Regions from separate parts of the Homo sapiens genome. Here region 1 is linked to region 2. A link means that fine-mapping ties the variant in region 2 to the plasma level of a protein whose gene starts in the linked region. Region 2 holds a variant in brackets. A gene starts in the other region. All regions are shown on their reverse strands. Region 1 holds the start of AZU1 (azurocidin 1). Region 2 has its middle 11 kb from the start of DEFA1.

The links. PIP is the chance, under the fine-mapping model, that this variant and not a neighbour inherited with it causes the effect. Protein levels are from antibody-based Olink assays in UK Biobank. Linkage for the fine-mapping came from a reference panel and not from the study's own genotypes, which makes the PIPs less certain.
Region 1: AZU1 starts here. The variant in region 2 is fine-mapped to the plasma level of the AZU1 protein (UK Biobank, PIP 0.99).

What each region holds. Positions count from the first base shown.
Region 1 is chr19:824,082-832,411 of GRCh38, reverse strand. It overlaps AZU1 (azurocidin 1), which reads right to left and starts at 4,575. Exons shown (of 5, transcript NM_001700.5): 1 at 4,508-4,575; 2 at 4,026-4,182; 3 at 2,706-2,850; 4 at 1,471-1,704; 5 at 394-696. The coding sequence starts at 4,565. The coding sequence ends at 535.
Region 2 is chr8:6,965,207-6,973,536 of GRCh38, reverse strand. It overlaps the pseudogene DEFA10P. Among named protein-coding and RNA genes, the nearest start is that of DEFA1, 11 kb to the left of the region's middle. RefSeq lists enhancers at 1,342-1,842, 1,843-2,343. The variant G/C (reference allele first, on the strand shown) is at 4,538.

The DNA.
Region 1 (8,330 bases), not on the chromosome of region 2:
CAGCCTCCCAAGTAACTGGGATTACAGGCGCCCGCCATCATGCCCGGCTAATTTTTGTATTTTTATAGAGATGGGGTTTCACCAGGTTGGCCGGGCTGGTCTTGAACTCCTGACCTCAGGTGATCCGCCCACCTCGGCCTCCCAAAGTGCTGGGCGGCATTCACTGTGTGACCTCTGGGCAGCCACCCAACCTCTCTGAACCTGGGCCTCCCCCCAACACCCCGCTGTCGGGTGCAGATAACACCAGCCCCTGCTTCCCGGGCTTTGAGGGAATCTCTGAACATCTGACATCTGCACAGGCAGTGCACCTGCGGTGGGTGCCCCTAAGGCCGGTGAAGGTGCCACTCACGCGTCCCCACAGCCCCCTCCCCCACCAATGAACAGAAACCAGGAGCAGAGGAGAGATCGGCTTCTTTATTACAGCCAGGGCCCCTCTGGCCGGAGCGGGGGCAGGGGCGGGGCCGTGGGAGGTGGGTGCGGAGCGCCGGAGGTGTGGAGGGCGGGGCTGGGCTCCATGGGAGGTCACAGGCCCCCCTAGGCTGGCCCCGGTCCCGGGTTGTTGAGAACACCATCGATCCAGTCTCGGAAGAGCGCCACTCGGGTGAAGAAGTCAGGGCCTCGGCCACAGGGCCCCAGGGAAAAGGAGGCCACGCCGTGGGCCAGGCCCTCGCAGACGAGGGGGGTGCCCCCGTCCCCCTGGGCAGGCAGCAGCTGTGTCAGGGCGTCCCAGGGCCTGGCTCCCACGCCACCCCAGAACTGCAGAGGCCTCTTGCTGCCCCTGGAACCTACAAGTCCTGATCCAGCCCCAGGGCCTTTGCATGGCTCTTCTCTTTCTCTGCCCTGGTTAACTGCTAGTGGACTTTGGGATCAGTTGCTTTCTGGAGCTTCCTGGCACCTCCAGGCTGGGCCAGGTGCCCCTCCCCTGGCAATCACACGCCTGAGTCCCTCAGTGACCGGCTCTACCATGCCTGCTGGGTCCCCAACCCCCAGCACAGACGTGGCTCACAGCCGGCGTTTGATAGCTACTGTTTCTCAGCCAGGCACGGTGGCTCATGCCTGTTATCCTAACACTTTGGGAGGCCAAGGTGGGTCGATCATGAGGTCAGGAGTTCGAGACCAGCCTGACCCACATGGAGAAACCCTGTCTCTACTAAAAATACAAAATTAGCCGGGCGTGGTGGCGCATGCCTGTAATCCCAGCTACTTAGGAGGCTGAGGCAGGAGAATCGCTTGAACCCAGGAGGCGGAGGTTGCAGTGAGCCGCCGAGATCACGCCACTACACTCCAGCCTGGGCGACAGAGCGAGACTCTGTCTCAAAAAAAAAAAAAAAGATACTGTTTCTCCTACCGTGAAAATGCTCAATCCTGGGGCCCCCCTGCTGTGCCGCCCTCAGCCTGCACTTGCTTTCTCCTGCCACGGAGAGCTCAGTACCTCTCAGGACCCCTCCTCCCGCCACAGGGAGCACTCACATTGCAGATGCCACCGCGGCGGGTGAGCACACCGGTGCACACGTTGTTGGGGCGACACTGGTCCTCGGGGGTCACAGTCACGTTGACAAACCTGGGAAAACGGGAGAGACGCCCCCCACTGCGCTGGCTCCCCCAGCCGGCCACCTGGCATCTGGTGCCGGCTTCCACCGTGGCGTTCTGCAGAGGCAGTGGCAGTATCGTCACGCTGCTGGTGAGGTTGGCCTCACGGTCCAGCTGGGGAAGGAAATGGAGTCAGGGGAGGGTGGCCCTGGGGACTGGAGCCTCATGGGGACCCCTGGGAGCAGAAGTGTCAGCGACATTAACTGTAGTCTGTAAGTGGTTTGCGTTTAATTCCCGGCAGGGGCCGGGTGCGGTGGCTCACGCCTGTATTCCCAGCACGTTGCGAGGCCAAGGTGGGTGGATCACTTGAGGCCAGGAGTTCGAGACCAAACTGGCCAACAAGGTGAAACCCCCGTCTCTACTTTTTTAAATTTTTTAATGATATTTTTGAGATAATTTTATCATTTTCTCAAAGAAAAAAACCAAACATGAAAAACATTCACATGATTCTGTCATAGCAAAAGCATTTGAAAACGACGTCAGTCTCCACCAACAGGAGGCTCCATACGCGAACCGTGGTACATCTGTATGTGTTGCTGTATTGTTTTTGGAAGTTTTTTTTGAGATAGGGTCTGGCTCTGTTACCCAGGCTGGAGTGCAGGGGCGCGATCTCGGCTCACTGCAAGCTCCGCCTCCCGGGTTCAAGCGATTCTCCTGCCTCAGCCTCCTGAGTAGCTGGGACTAGAGGCGCCCGCTGCCATGCCTGGCTAATTTTTGTATTTTTAGTAGAGATGGGGTTTCACCATGTTGGCCAGGCTGGTCTCAATCTCCTGACCTCGTGATCCGCCCACCTCGGCCTCCCAAAATGCTGGGATTACAGGCATGAGCCACCTCACCCGGCAAGATACACACACACACACACACACACACACACACACACACACATATATATTTTTGTAGAGACTGAGTTTGGCCATGTTGCCCAGGCTGGTCTCGAACTCCTGACCTCAAGCCGTCCTTCCGCCTCGGCCTCCTGAAGCACAGGGGCCACAGGTGCGCGCCACCACTCCCGGCTAATTTTTGTATTTTTTTGTAGAGACCAAGTTTGGACTTGTTTCCCTGGCTAACGTCGGCCTCCCGAGGTGCTGGGATCACAGGTGGCACCATCCTCTCACCTGAAGCAGCATCAGGTCGTTCAGGTTCTGCTGGGGGTCGTAGCCATTCTCGCTCATGCTGCTGATGGAAAACGTCTGGCGGGACTGCCTCTCCCGCCGCCTCAGGTCATAGGCACCCAGCACCACGGTGCTAACCCCGGGGTTCCTGAGAGTAGCGGAGGAAAGGGCAGAGGGAGGACACCAGGCTGGGGCCTGGGCACAGAGCAAGCCGGCTTGCAAATTAGGGGGGATCCCAGCCTGCAGACTGCAATCCTTCACCCTGAAAACTCCCCCGCTTTTACAGAAGCAGAGCCGAGACTTTCCAGGGCCCCCTTCCCATCTTGAGCCCCTTCCCTTCTCTGCGCCTCCTCCTCCATCTGAGCCCCTTCTCTTCTCTGCGCCCCCTCCTCCATCTGAGTCCCTTCCCTTCTCTGAGCCTCCTCCATCTGACCCCCTCCCCTTCTCTGCACCTCCTCCATCTGAGCCCCTTCCCTTATCTGGGCCTCCCCCATCTGACCCCCTTCCCTTCTCTGCACCTCCCCCATCTGACCCCATTCCCTTATCTGGGCCTCCCCCATCTGACCCCCTTCCCTTCTCTGCACCTCCTCCATCTGACCCCCTTCCCTTCTCTGCGCCTCCCCCATCTGAGCCCCTTCCCTTCCCTGGGCCTCCCCCATCTGACCCCCTTCCCTTCTCTGCCCCTCCTCCATCTGAGCCCCTTCCCTTCCCTGGGCCTCCCCCATCTGACCCCCTTCCCTTCTCTGCACCTCCTCCATCTGACCCCCTTCCCTTCTCCGCACCTCCTCCATCTGAGGCCCTTCCCTTCTCTGCACCTCCTCCATCTGAGGCCCTTCTCTTCTCTGCACCTCCTCCATCTGAGCCCCTTCCCTTCTCTGCACCTCCTCCATCTGAGCCCCTTCCCTTCTCTGGGCCTCCCCCATCTGACCCCCTTCCCTTCTCTGCACCTCCTCCATCTGAGCCCCTTCCTTTCTCTGGGCCCCCTCCTCCATCTGAGCCCCTTCCCTTCTCTGGGCCTCCCCCATCTGACCCCCTTTCCTTCACTGCACCTCCTCCATCTGAGCCTCTTCCTTTCTCTGGGCCTCCTCCATCTGACCCCCTTCCCTTCTCTGGGCCTCCTCCATCTGAGCCCCCCAATATCCTTGGGTCCCTCCTCAACTCAGTCCCCATTTCCCTCTCCAAGCCCCCTCCTTTCCCTGAGCCCCTCCTTTTGCAATCCCCTCCCCTCCTCACCTACCAAGCACCCCCACTGAATGCCTAAGCCCCCCAAGCCCCTTCTCTGAGCCCCAATGCCCCCTAGGCCCCCTCCCCAGGACCCCTCACTGGCTTTGGAAGCAGCTGGCCGCGGTCATCACGAAGCGGGCATGGATCAGGGCACCCCCGCAGAAGTGCCTGCCTTGATTCTGAATGGAGGCCAGGAACGGGAACTGGCGGGGCCTCGCCTTCCGGCCGCCAACGATGTCCAAAAGGGGGCTGGAGCCTGGGTCGGGGGGAGACAGCTCTGAGATCCCCAAGAATCCACACAGTGGCCGGGAGGGCGTGTGAAGCTGCAGCCTCAGCTCTATCCACCCAGTGGGGCTGCGGGGGGACCCACCCTCCCCCATCGTCCCACTCCCTAAGAGGACAGGGGGCCCCTGAGTCCCGCACACCGTCCGCCCTCACGCCTTTCGCGGGATCGTCCAGGCCGGGCTGGCTGTGTGACCCAGGCCAAGCCGCTTGCCTTCTCTGTGCTTTAAGTCTGAGTTCTGCCCTGGCAGCCGGGCCCTAGCACAGATGGGGGACCACCGGCACAGAGAGGCACTCACCGGCCCTCGAGGACGCCAGCAGACCAGCCAGCAGGGCCAGGACTGTCAGCCGGGTCATGGCGGGGCAGGTCTGTGGCTAAGGCGGCGGCTGCCCTTATACACAGGCCTTGGCAGTTGGTGGCGTCCCCGCCCAGGCCCAGGGACAGCCCCACTCAGTGGGAACACGGGAAATTGCCCAAGGCCTCCACCGCCAACTGCTCCCTGGGCCAGCCTGGGCTCCCCCTACATTCTGCACTGATCCTCAGTTTCCCTCTCTAGAAGATGGCCACACCCCCAGGGGCAGGTGAGGGTGTCAGGAACCAGTGGATCCCGGAGCCCAGCACATGGCGGGCATGCAGCCAGCACCCAGGAACATTGCCAGCTCAGAGTCCCAGTCTCCCCATCCCAAGCCACTGGGGCTCCAGCACTGCCCGCTGGGCCTGGCACCGGGGGGCTCAGGGCAGTGGAGCTGGCAGTCCTGCGTTGAGTCCTGCGCGTCTGTATGGGTGATTATTATTATTATTATTATTATTATTATTTTGAGACGGAGTTTCGCTCTTGTTGCCCAGGCTGGAGTGCAATGGTGTGATCTCGACTCACTGCAACCTCCGCCTCCCAGGCTCAAGTGATTCTCCTGTCTCAGCCTCCTGAGTAGCTAGGATTACAGTTGTCCACCACCACGCCTGGCTAATTTTTTGTATTTTTAGTAGAGATGGGGTTTCACTATATTGGCCAGGCTGGTCTCAAACTCCCGACCTCAGGTGATCCACCCACCTCGGCCTCCCAAAATGCTGGGATTACAGGTGTGAAACACTGTGCCCGATTGGGTGATTTTTTTAAACTTTTTCAACAGCTTTATTGAGATATAATTGACAAGCTGGGTGCGGTGGCTCACACCTGTAATCCTAGCACTCTGGGAGGCCGAGGCAGGCAGATCACCTGAGGTTGGGCGTTCAAGACCAGCCTGACCAACATGGAGAAACCCCATCTCTACTAAAAATACAAAATTAACTGGGCGTGGTGGCACATGCCTGTAATCCCAGCTACTCAGGAGGCTGAGGCAGGAGAATCACTTGAACCTGGGAGGCGGAGGTTGCAGCGAGCCGAGATCGCACCATTGCACTCCAGCCTGGGCGACAAGAGCAAAACTCCATTTCAAAAAAAAAAAAGAAATTAGCTGGGCGTGGTGGCGGGCGCCTATAGTCCCAGCTACTTGGGAAGCTGAGACAGGATAATCGCTTGAACCTGGGAGGTGGAGGTTGCAGTGAGCCGAGATTGCGCCACTGCACTCCAGCCTGGGTGACACAGAGAGACTCCGTCTCAAAAAAAATAAATAAAAACAAATTAAAAACTATATAAAAATAAATAGACGAAATGTCCAGAACAAGCAAATCTGCAGAGGCAGGAAGTGGATCTGTGGTTGCCAGGGGCCGGGGGAGGGCAGGGGGTGATGGCTGATGGATGGAGATGGGGCTTCCTTCTTTGGGGTGATGGAATGTTCTGGGACTGGACAGCAGTGATGGTTGCACAAGTCGGTGAATGCACCGAAAACCACTTCACTGTACCGTTCAAAATGGCTAATTTTAAGTTATGTAAATTTCATCTCCTTCTTTTGTTTTTTTCAGAGTTGAGGTCTCGCTGTTGCCCAGGCTGGAGGGCAGCGGCACCATCTCAGCTCACTGCAGCCTCAATCTCCTGGGTTCAACTGATCCTCCTGCCTCAGCCTCCCGAGTAGCTGGGACCACAGGCACCCGCCACCGTGCCCGGCTAATTTTTGTATATTTTGTAGAGATGGGATCTCACTATGTTGCCCAGGGTGGAGTGCAGTGGCACGATCTCAGCTCGCTGCAGCCTCCGATTCCCGGGTTCCAGCAATCCTCCTGCCTCAGCCTCCCAGGTAGCTGGGACCATAGGCACATGCCACCATGCCCGGCTAATTTTTGTATTTTTTTGTAGAGGTGGAGTCTCACTATGTTGCTCGGGCTGGTTTGAAACTCCTAAGCTCAAGCAATCCACCTGCCTCGGCCTCCCAAAGTGCTGGGAGCACAGGTGTGAGCTACTGCGTCCAAACTCACCTCCATTTTTTACAAAGGGGCTCATTTCCAAGGTGAAACTGAGGTCTGGAGCTTACCGTGTCCCCCACACCCTTGGGGACACCAGTTTGTGTCTGGGCCTGTGGGAGCCCTCTGAGGGCAGTTTGCCCCTCCAAGGGGCGGATACGGGGAGAGTCCAGGGAGGCGGGGCCGGTGTGCCTTGAGGTCCGCTGCCCATCGGGAATGTAGGGTCCCAGGGCTCAAATCTGGTCTCCAGGCCGGGAGCGGTGGCTCACACCTGTAATCTCAGCACTTTGGGAGGCCGAGGCGGGCGGATCATGAGGTCAGGAGATCAAGACCTTCCTGGCTAACACGGTGAAACCCCATCTCTACTAAAGATACAAAAAATTAGCCGGGCGTGGTGGTGGGCGCCTGTAGTCCCAGCTACTCAGGAGGCTGAGGCAGGAGAATGGCGTGAACCCAGGAGGCGGAGCTTGCAGTGAGCCGAGATCGTGCCACTGCACTCCAGCCCGGGAGACAGTGAGACTCCATCTCAAAAAAATAATAATAATAATAATAATTCCGGTCTCCACTGAGTTTCACAGCCCAGCCACCTCACAGGGTCCATGGCACAGCCCCCAGATCCCTGCCTCCGTCCAAGCCAGCTCTCCCTCTCTGCCCACCCCGGATCCTACCTGTCCATCTTCCCTGCGGAGGCCCCAGCCTCCATCCACCCTGTCCTGGCCAAACGTGGGCCTCAGCTCTCCCGTGGGCCAGGCCCCATTTCCCCTCTGCCGGGAGCCGGAAGCTCTGTCCCTCCCAGTCGCATGACCTCAGGGCGAGCTCGCTGTCTGCACGTCAGTGTGCCCTGAGACAGGGATAGACTCTGCCTTCTAGACAGAACAGTGCTGAGCATGGAGTGGGGTTCATATTCTGAAAAGTTTTTGAGGCCGGGCGTGGTGGCTCACGCCTGTAATCCCAGTGCCTTGGGAGGCCGAGGTGGGAGGATCACTTGAGCCCAGGAGTTTGAGACCAGCCTTGGCAACATGGTGAGACCCTCTCTCTATTAAAAAAAAAAAAAAAAAGCTGGGCGCGGTGGCTCACGCCTGTAATCCCAGCACTTTGGGAGGCCAAGACGGGCGGATCACGAGGTCAGGAGATCAAGACCATCCTGGCTAACACGGTGAAACACCGTCTCTACTAAAAATACAAAAGAATTACCCGGGCATAGTCCTGGGCGCCTGCGGTCCCAGCTACTCGGGAGGCTGAGGCAGGAGAATGGCGTGAACCCGGGAGGTGGAGCTTGCAGTGAGCCGAGATCGCGCCACTGCACTCCAGCCTAGACGACAGAGTGCAACTCCGTCTCCCAAAAAAAAAAAAAAAGGCTGGGCTCCGTGGCTCCCCTGTCATCCCAGTACTTTGGGAGGCTGAGGCAGCAGATCAGCTGAGGTCAGGAGATCAACACCAGCCTGACCAACATGGGGAGATCCTCTTTCTACTAAAAATACAAAAATTAGCCCGTCGTGGTGGCAGGCGCCTATAATCCCAACTACTCGGGAGGCTGAGGAGGGAGAATCACTTGAACCCAGGAGGTGGGAGGTTGCAGTGAGCTGAAATCGCACGATTGCACTCCAGCCTGGGCGACAGAGCAAGAGTCCATCTCAAAATAATAGTAATAATAATAATAATCATTTTTAAATAAAAGTTTTGAGCAGCGTCTGGTACGCTCAACCCCTCCGGCCTGCTCGGAACTCTCCCATCACTCAAGCCCAGGCCCCACACTCAAGCCCAGGCCCCTCAGCCAAGCAACG
Region 2 (8,330 bases):
TCAGGCCCAAGACACTTGTGAACAGGTGGCAGGGGGTGCTGGCTCAGCTGCAGCTCTGACAGGGCTCAGGGGTGAGACCCTGTGAGGCACTGACGTCAGATCATGCCGGTTCATGAAGGAGGAGATTGGTGTGACACTTTGTATCCCACTCATAGCTAGCAGGATTTGCAACACTTAGACTTCCTCCAAGCATGGTATCCGGGCTTCAAAGACACAAGCAATCTGAGTGTATGTGGAGTGCTGGAAAAAAATACCATACACCAAGTGACTTAGAAACAACAGAAATATATGTCTTGGTGTTCTCGAGGCTGAGAAGTCCAAAACAAGGTGCCAACACACTTGGTGTCTGGTGAGGACCAGTTTTGTGATTCATAGACGGCACCTTCTCACTGAATCCAACTCGCTGCAGATGACATAATTTCATTCTCTTTTATGAATGTAGTATCCCATCATGTATATGTACCACATTTTCTTCATCCAGTCCAACACTGATGGCCATCTAGGTTGACTCCATGTCTTTGTTAGCATGAATGATGCTGCCATGAACATACGAGTACATGTGTCTTTTTGGCAGAATAATTTGTTTTCCTTTGGATATATACCCAGTAGTGAGATTCCTTGGTTGAATGCTGGTTCTATTTTAAGTTATTTGCGAAATCTCTAAACTGCTTTCCACTATGGCTGAACTCATTAACATTCCCCTCAACAGTGTATAAGCGTTCTCTTTCTCTGCAGTCTTGCCAATATCAGTATTTTTTAACTTTTCAATAACAGCCATTCTGACTAGTGTGAGCTGGTATCCCTTTGAGGTTTTATTTTGCATTTCTCTAATGATCAGTAATGTGGAGCATTTTTTCATGTTTCTTGGCCTCTTGTATGTCTTTTTTTTGAGAAGTATCTGTTCATGCCCTGGCACGCATTTTAAAGGGGTCATTTCTTTTTTGCTTACTTATTTGTTTAAGTCCCTTGTAGAGGAAAATCACTTTGACCACGAGATCACCACCAACCAGCCTTTCCTTACTGCTACAAACACGGACCTTGCCATCTCCAGTACACGGTGCTGGCTCATGGCCAGTACCCAAACCCTTGACTTGCTGCTTCCCTGACCTCATGCTTTGCTGATTACCCCAAAAATGACCTCATTAGAGTGGAATTTTGCTGAGATCACCATTTGCTTTCAGAATAAGCCCATTACTTTATGGTGCAAGGAACCCATAGAGCCTCAGTGAGATTGTAAAGCTGCCCTACAAGCTACGGAAAACTATGGACTTGGGAGAACTGTGTGTAAGAATACCACGCCCGAATCTCACCAGCTCTCCAGTGATAACGCTCATGCAGTGCTGCGGAAATGCCTGTGGACTGGAGTGTGCTCTGTGTGCAGGAAGCAGGTCCAGGTTTCACTTCCGCAGGACATGGGACATTTCCAGAACCCAGAGATCTTCCTCTCGCTCATATACACCCCTTCATATTTAGTCCCTATAACCTCATCATTGCGACCCTACAGGCACCTACTAATGCCCTGGAAGCTAAAACTGTCACCAGAGCCTCAGTTTCCCCAAAGAGCCCAAATTTCTTCTTATGCTGGGGTGAGACTGGTGCTCACTTCCTCCAAAGCTGAAGTTCCTGGGCCTGCCACACATCAGGAATTCACTGCTTCCTCAGAGGGACAGGAGACCCCACTGCTCTGCCACAGTGACCGCCCCTAGCAAGGCTTGAGATGCCTCCTCTACCTTAAGGTTGAGGGAGATGCTTTAGTTCTCACTCCACTGCCCCCAGGCCTCCACCGGCCGATGCCTGCTGCCTGCACACAGAGCTGCAGGGGAGGCCCTGAGCACCCAGCCTGTGGGACCAGCGCTGTGCATGACCTTCCCATGGCAGCAGGGGCTGTCTGGCCTGTACACTGGGTTCAGCAACCTCACCATAGGTATTTACTGCCTCTCGAGTGACTGCTTTCTTTTCTCATTTCCAGAAACCTTATCACATCTACCTCACTATGAGAAGGAGGAGGAGGGTGGATAGTGGTACATTTTAAAATGTGCTCTAGTTTTCCTAGGACTTCTCCTGAAATAACACAGGAGGGACCACAGGAGCTCAATCCTGCATATCTCGAGTGACCAGTGATCTTCCCACTCACGCCGTGTGTATGGAGGCTCTTAAGCCTGCCCAGAATTGACTTAAGAGCAAGGTATTTGAGAACACAGCACCAGGTGATGTAAGCTAACACCCATCTTGCTTCCACCTTGGCCGCCTCCCTGAGAGACTTCCAAAAGACATTAGATCTCAAGCAGGAAACTCAGGAGTCCTTGGCGCCAGTGGTCCTAGACACTCGTTTAGCCTTAAACTGTCCATTGCCCAAGCAACGAGGCAATTGTCCGCTCCCGGGAACCACATGCTGTGTGCACATCCTTAACAAACCCAACAAAACCTGCCCTGCCTGGTAACACAAGCCGACGTGGGATTCAGTCTCAACCAGGTGGTCTGCAACATCCCAACCCAGCCAATCGGCTTTGATGTGTTGTTACGGTTAGAGCACAGGTACTTGGGAGGCTGGTTCAGGCAAGATTCCTCATCCTCTCCTGTGCATGGGTGTCTGTCGTAACTTGTCTCCCTAACAGAGTGTATCCTGTGATATGCAGGCCAGGCTCTCCTGGGGGCTTTAAGTATTCCCTGGGTGCAATTACCTCAGCCTGAGCCATCAGCACAGGCATCTCGGGGTCCATTGTCTTAGGAGTCATGGAATCTATCATTGGTTGCTGCCTGGGCCTGGCCAGGGCTGACCGAGTTAGATGCGGGGTTCTCTGTGGACTCATGTCTACACCACAGCGTCCCTCCAAATTTCTCAACTGCCCTTGCCACCAGAGTTATTTAATGTACCCAACAGAAAGTAACCCAGGATATTAGGATACCTGATCCCAAATCACCCTTAAATAGGGAAGTCCCCTCCTGTTTGTGCACGGCTGCTCTTGCTACAGGAGACCAGGGACAGAGGACTGCTGTCTGCCCTCTCTGGTCACTCTGCCTAACTTCAGGAGCTGTAATTAACACAGACCTTAAACTCTCACATTGAGGTTTCAACATTGAGCCTGTGCCCCCAGTCTGACCTGTGACTCCTGGACCACCCCAGAGGGACCTAGTGGGTGAATCCCCTGCTGTGCATTTCTCTCTGAACCTCTGGTGGTTGCCTGGGGCATTGGCTACCAGCTAAGTTAATAGAGAAACTCAGGAAATTTCCTTCGAAATACGCGTGTCCTACTTGACGTGTCTAACAGAGACAATAGTAGCGCCTTGAAACATTATTTTATTTTGAGAGGAGCCTATCCTGCTCCTTGGCCTGTTTTTCAATCAGGTTATTTGTTATTTGCTATTGAGTTGTTTGACTTACTTATGTATTTGGATATTTACCCCTTCTACCACTTAGGGTTTGCAAATATTTTCTCTCATGTTCTGGGTCACTTTTTCACTCAGTTGTTTGTCTTTTTGATTTTTGCCATTCAGATGCTTTAATGTTCAATGCAGCCCCACTTGTCTATTTTTCTTTTCATTGCCTGTGTCTTTGCTGCCATAGCAAAGATATCATTACCAACATCAACGTCAAAGCATTATCTTCATATGTTCCTCTCATCATTTTATGGTTTCAGGTCTATGTTTGGGTCTTCAAAACATTTTGAGTTGATTTGTGTACCTAGTATATGATAAAAAACCACATGTATATGAACATCAAATCCTAACGCAGTATACAGTAGATCTGTACCATTTTTAATTCTTATTCATATCTCAGTAGAGCTGGAAAAATTTCTTTTGGATGTAGATGAACTTTTTACCTCGATGTCACTGTGTTCATTTCACCTATCACGTGATAGGGTCATGGTCCTCTTCACACTGGCTCCTACAAGAGACTACTAACCCCATGACTTCATGAGGGTGGTCACGCCCTTGATGCCTGCAACAAATGACTCTTCACTTGATAGGAATTTATGCCTGCTGCCAGAGTGTAGACCTCCAGGAAGTAGTGGGGCCATCTGCAGAAAATGACACATTTGCTCCCTGAACTTACTGAACAAAAGCACTGCTGTTATCTTTTGGTTATTAAAAAGTAAATATGGAATGAAGTGAGAAACAGGAAAAACATGCCAGGATCCTCATCTTCACCATCTTCTCCAAACACCTGATCCATCTACTCACACTTTCTAGTGTGAATAGAGATTCACACTACAATAAAAGCTGAGAGATCAAAGGAGGAAAAGAGGGACACTGAGACCAAAGGGATCCCACACAATCCCCGATGAAATGCACACCTCCTCTCACTGAGAAGTTTCAAAGTTTCTGGTCTCTGAGCCTTCTCTCTGCAGACCTATAAACCCAGGCTAACTCCTCTCTCCCCACACATCTGCTCCTGCTCTCCCTCCTCCAAGTCTCTGTAGCCATGAGGACCCTTGCCCTCCTCACTGCCACCGTTCTCTTTGTGGCCCTGCAGGCTCAGGCGGAGCCACTTCGGGCAAGAGCTGATGAAGCTGCAGCCCAGGAGTAGCCTGGAGCA[G/C]ATGATCAGGAAGTGTCTGTTTCCTTTACATGGGATGAAAGCGCTGCACTTCCACTTTCAGGTGAGACAGGCCGGCATGCAGAGAGCTGCACAGTCTAGAGGGTTGGACGGGAGAGAGAGTCTGGAATCGAGTCTCAATGGTCCATGTCACTTAGGTGGCTTCATTTAGCATCTCTGGTCCTTGGTATTCTCATCTATAAATTGAAGAGAGAGCCCAATAAATCTAACAGGTTTTCTGTCTTTAAAGACTTAAGGCTGCTCTGCATGGAGAGCAGCCATTATTTTACTCTTTTACTTTCTTAATAATCCTTTCACTTTAGAAAAAATAAATAAAAAGGAAAGACTTGATTCCAAGATATGCCTGTGAAACTCAGTAGGTTTAAGATATGAAGAGACAGTCTGACTACTTCTTTCTGGATCTAAACAAGTAGATTTCATTATAAGGAGAATATTTTACTGTATCTATAGAATGGTTTTTTAAAAGTAGAGCCAAGCCTAAGAGTGTGTTCAGGTGTGTGTGTGATGGGGCAGAAGCACAAAAATGAGAGCAAATGAGAATGAGTCTCAAATCCTGTGTGACCAGCACTGCTCTGTGTATTTATTCCTATTGACTGAGGTTGTTCATGCTACCGGCCCTAATGCAGACAACATCACTCATCAGCTGGCACGTGACTTCTCCAAGATTCCCTTTACAACCCACTGTTGACCTTGGTGATCCATTTCTGATGCTGTCCCTGTGTCCCCAGGCTCAGGGAGAGGCTTGAGGTGCATTTGCAGACGAGGAATTTGCCATTTCTTTCAACGTCGCTTTGGGTCCTGTGCCCTTCCTGGTAGATTATACCGGATCTGCTGCTGCTGAGCTTGCAGAATCAAGAAAAATAAGCTCATTATTTACTTTGAGAGTAAAAGAAATTCTTGTTATTCCTGTACCTTGTCCTTAATTTCATTTTCTCATCCTAAATAAATACCTTATCGCAAGATTTCTGTCTTTACATCTCTTTCACATTTGATGTGTCTTTGTGTCTCAAGACACTTGGCATGCACCTACCAGAATCCTAAGTTTTTAAACAAAACAAAATTCCAAATTCTAGGAATTTCAAGCAGGAGTTTTGGCTTCAGACTCTAATTGAAAAGAAGGCCCATATGACACCACCAATCTCCCCATCCACTGCTCTGTCTTTTCACTCTGTCTCATTTTCTCTGGATCCACTCAAAGAGCTCCCTCCCGTGTACTGGGCAAACAATCGGTGTCAGCTTAAAGTTCATGCAGTCACAAAATCATTACTTCTCCGGGAAAACCACCATCCTCTGTGCTAAAGAATTGGAGTTTCATTGAACAATGTCAGATTGTACATTTTCCTTTTAAGACATAGGGTTACATGAGATCCACGGAAAAAACTTTCTGTAAGAGGGAAATGTGTTGTTAGCAAAGGTGGGATGCATGGAACAGAAAGCACAGCAGCTTACACTGGCATGTCCTCATTAAGAGCACCCTCCAGCCATGTCTACTAAGACCTGGATTTCACATCCATAAACTCTTCTTCACACCCAGAAAATGCACACACACAAATGCTCCACTGCACTTTGCAACAGGCACTCTCTTGTGTTGCCTTAAAGCTTCTGAGAACTGAATCTGCCTGGAAAATACAGCTTCATAGGGGATAAGTGATGAGGGAGGGAAAGCATTTCACCGGGAAAATCGTAGCCTTCTTGTTGTTGCAGGGTGCTGAGGCAGCTCAGAGGTCCAGGCACCCCACTGAGACACTGCATGGATGGGGAAGCCACCAACACCAACCACAAATGCCCAGACCCCAGGAGGAAGGAGTAGGCATTCCCCACGTCCACCTCATGCAGATTCTGAGCAGGTCTCGGCCCCAGACTGAGGCTCTGCCTGTCTGAAGTGGCAGCTCAGGGATCCAGGCACCCCACTGAGATGCTGCATGGCTGGGGAACTCAATACAGATCTTAGGGACTATAGATGAGCCTATGACTGACACATAAATGGTCCCAGCTCTACCTCTTCTTTAGAGAAGGAAGGACACACATTAAGATTGAGAATGCAATGGCCAGACAACATTCCTTGGGTTCCTATAACTGCCACTGACTTGAAGTCACATGGTGCTTGCTTTAACTCTGCATACTGCTCCTAACTGTCCGCTGGGCTGGGCTGACTCCCTCACACGGCTTTTGCACTTCACCCAGAAGTCCACCTTTCTTGCACCCCAGATCCTGGAGTCTCTGCTAAAACTTCCCTTTGTCACTGAGGGCTTTGCTGATTTCTCAATTTTAAATTGCAACTAGTTCCCCCTGGAAACCTCAATCCCCTTCTTCTCTTATTTTAAACTGTAGAGTTTCACACCATCTTACATTCTGTACATTTCACCTGCTTTCTGTAATGTTTGCCTCCCTACTCTAGAAGGTGAGCTGCAAGTTTTACTCATTGTTGGGCCACAGTACACAGACGACTCCCTAATAAATAGTAGAGGATCAGCAAATTCATTATGATTACATTAATTAGTCATATCTAACATCACATATTATTACAAAATTACATTGTTATTACAAAACTTCGTAGAATAAACCTGACACCTATGGGGATAAAGCACCCATGTGCCTAGTCCATGTGACAGCATTGCTTTAAAAATCAATAAAAATCATTTAAACCAACAGGAGAATATCATGAGTAGAAAATGGCTTTGTGAAGCATCACTACCTTCTAATGAAGAACTAGCCATTTTGGCCTGTAGTGGCAAGACAAGAGTTTATGATATATCTTTAACTGAAACATACAAGATATTGAAAAATTCAATACATTAAAAAGAAGAGGTAGAGCAGTATTCTAGGTAAAGAAAATGGCATTGGGACAAGAAGTATGAAGGGTCAGATAGACCTCCAGTGAATTTAGAGGAATTGCTTTTGCAACAGAGAAGAGTAGAGCAGAATTCCGGCCGACATGGTGAGAAGTATCCATCAATCCAAGGGAAGGGGGCAGATGAGGACGGAGCATCCCATCGTCCTCAACTGGGGCACCACATGTGGCTTCTGCTACTGCAGTCCAGGGTGGCCAATGAAAGCAGCAAACTCTAGGGACGGAGAATGCAGGGAGAGATGTGAGGGTCTCCAGACAACCAGGGTAATTTTCGCAGCCTCAAATAAGACCACGAAATGATTATTGAAAACACAAACTCTGTATGTACACTGAAGACCTACTAGGCATTTTAAAGAATCCACTCATGTGATCGAACGATAAAGAATAAGTCAGAGGTGGGCCATGTTTTCACAATGTGATTATCCCAAGACATAGCATCCCTGTCTCATTGTAGGGCTTCCCCTGTGAGGCTCTGAATCCCTACAGGGCATGGAAGCACAAAGAAAAGTGTGCTTGGCAGTTTCATTTCCACTCACCCCCTTCTATTCTTAAGCCCTCATCCTTAAGATGTGAAGCTGTGTCTAGAAAATCTCCAGGAATCTTCTCATCCACAATTTCCAGTCTAAACTCACTTGCCATTCCCCATGTTTACAACCTTCCTTCAGTGAGCACAGTCTACACAGCGTCCTACTGAACGTCTTCATACATTTCCTCTACACACTGTTCTCCACACTTGGAACTTAATCTCTCACCTCTCTCCTTGCCCCAGTCCTGTCCTGCTTCAAGAAGGACATGAAGCCTCTACTGCTCCACAGTGTCACTTGACTTTAGTTAGGCACTTACTGGGGACACGTTTTTTGGCACCAATGACAGTTGTAAGACAATTTTTCCATGGGTGGGGGGGCTGAGGGATTGTTTCTGGAT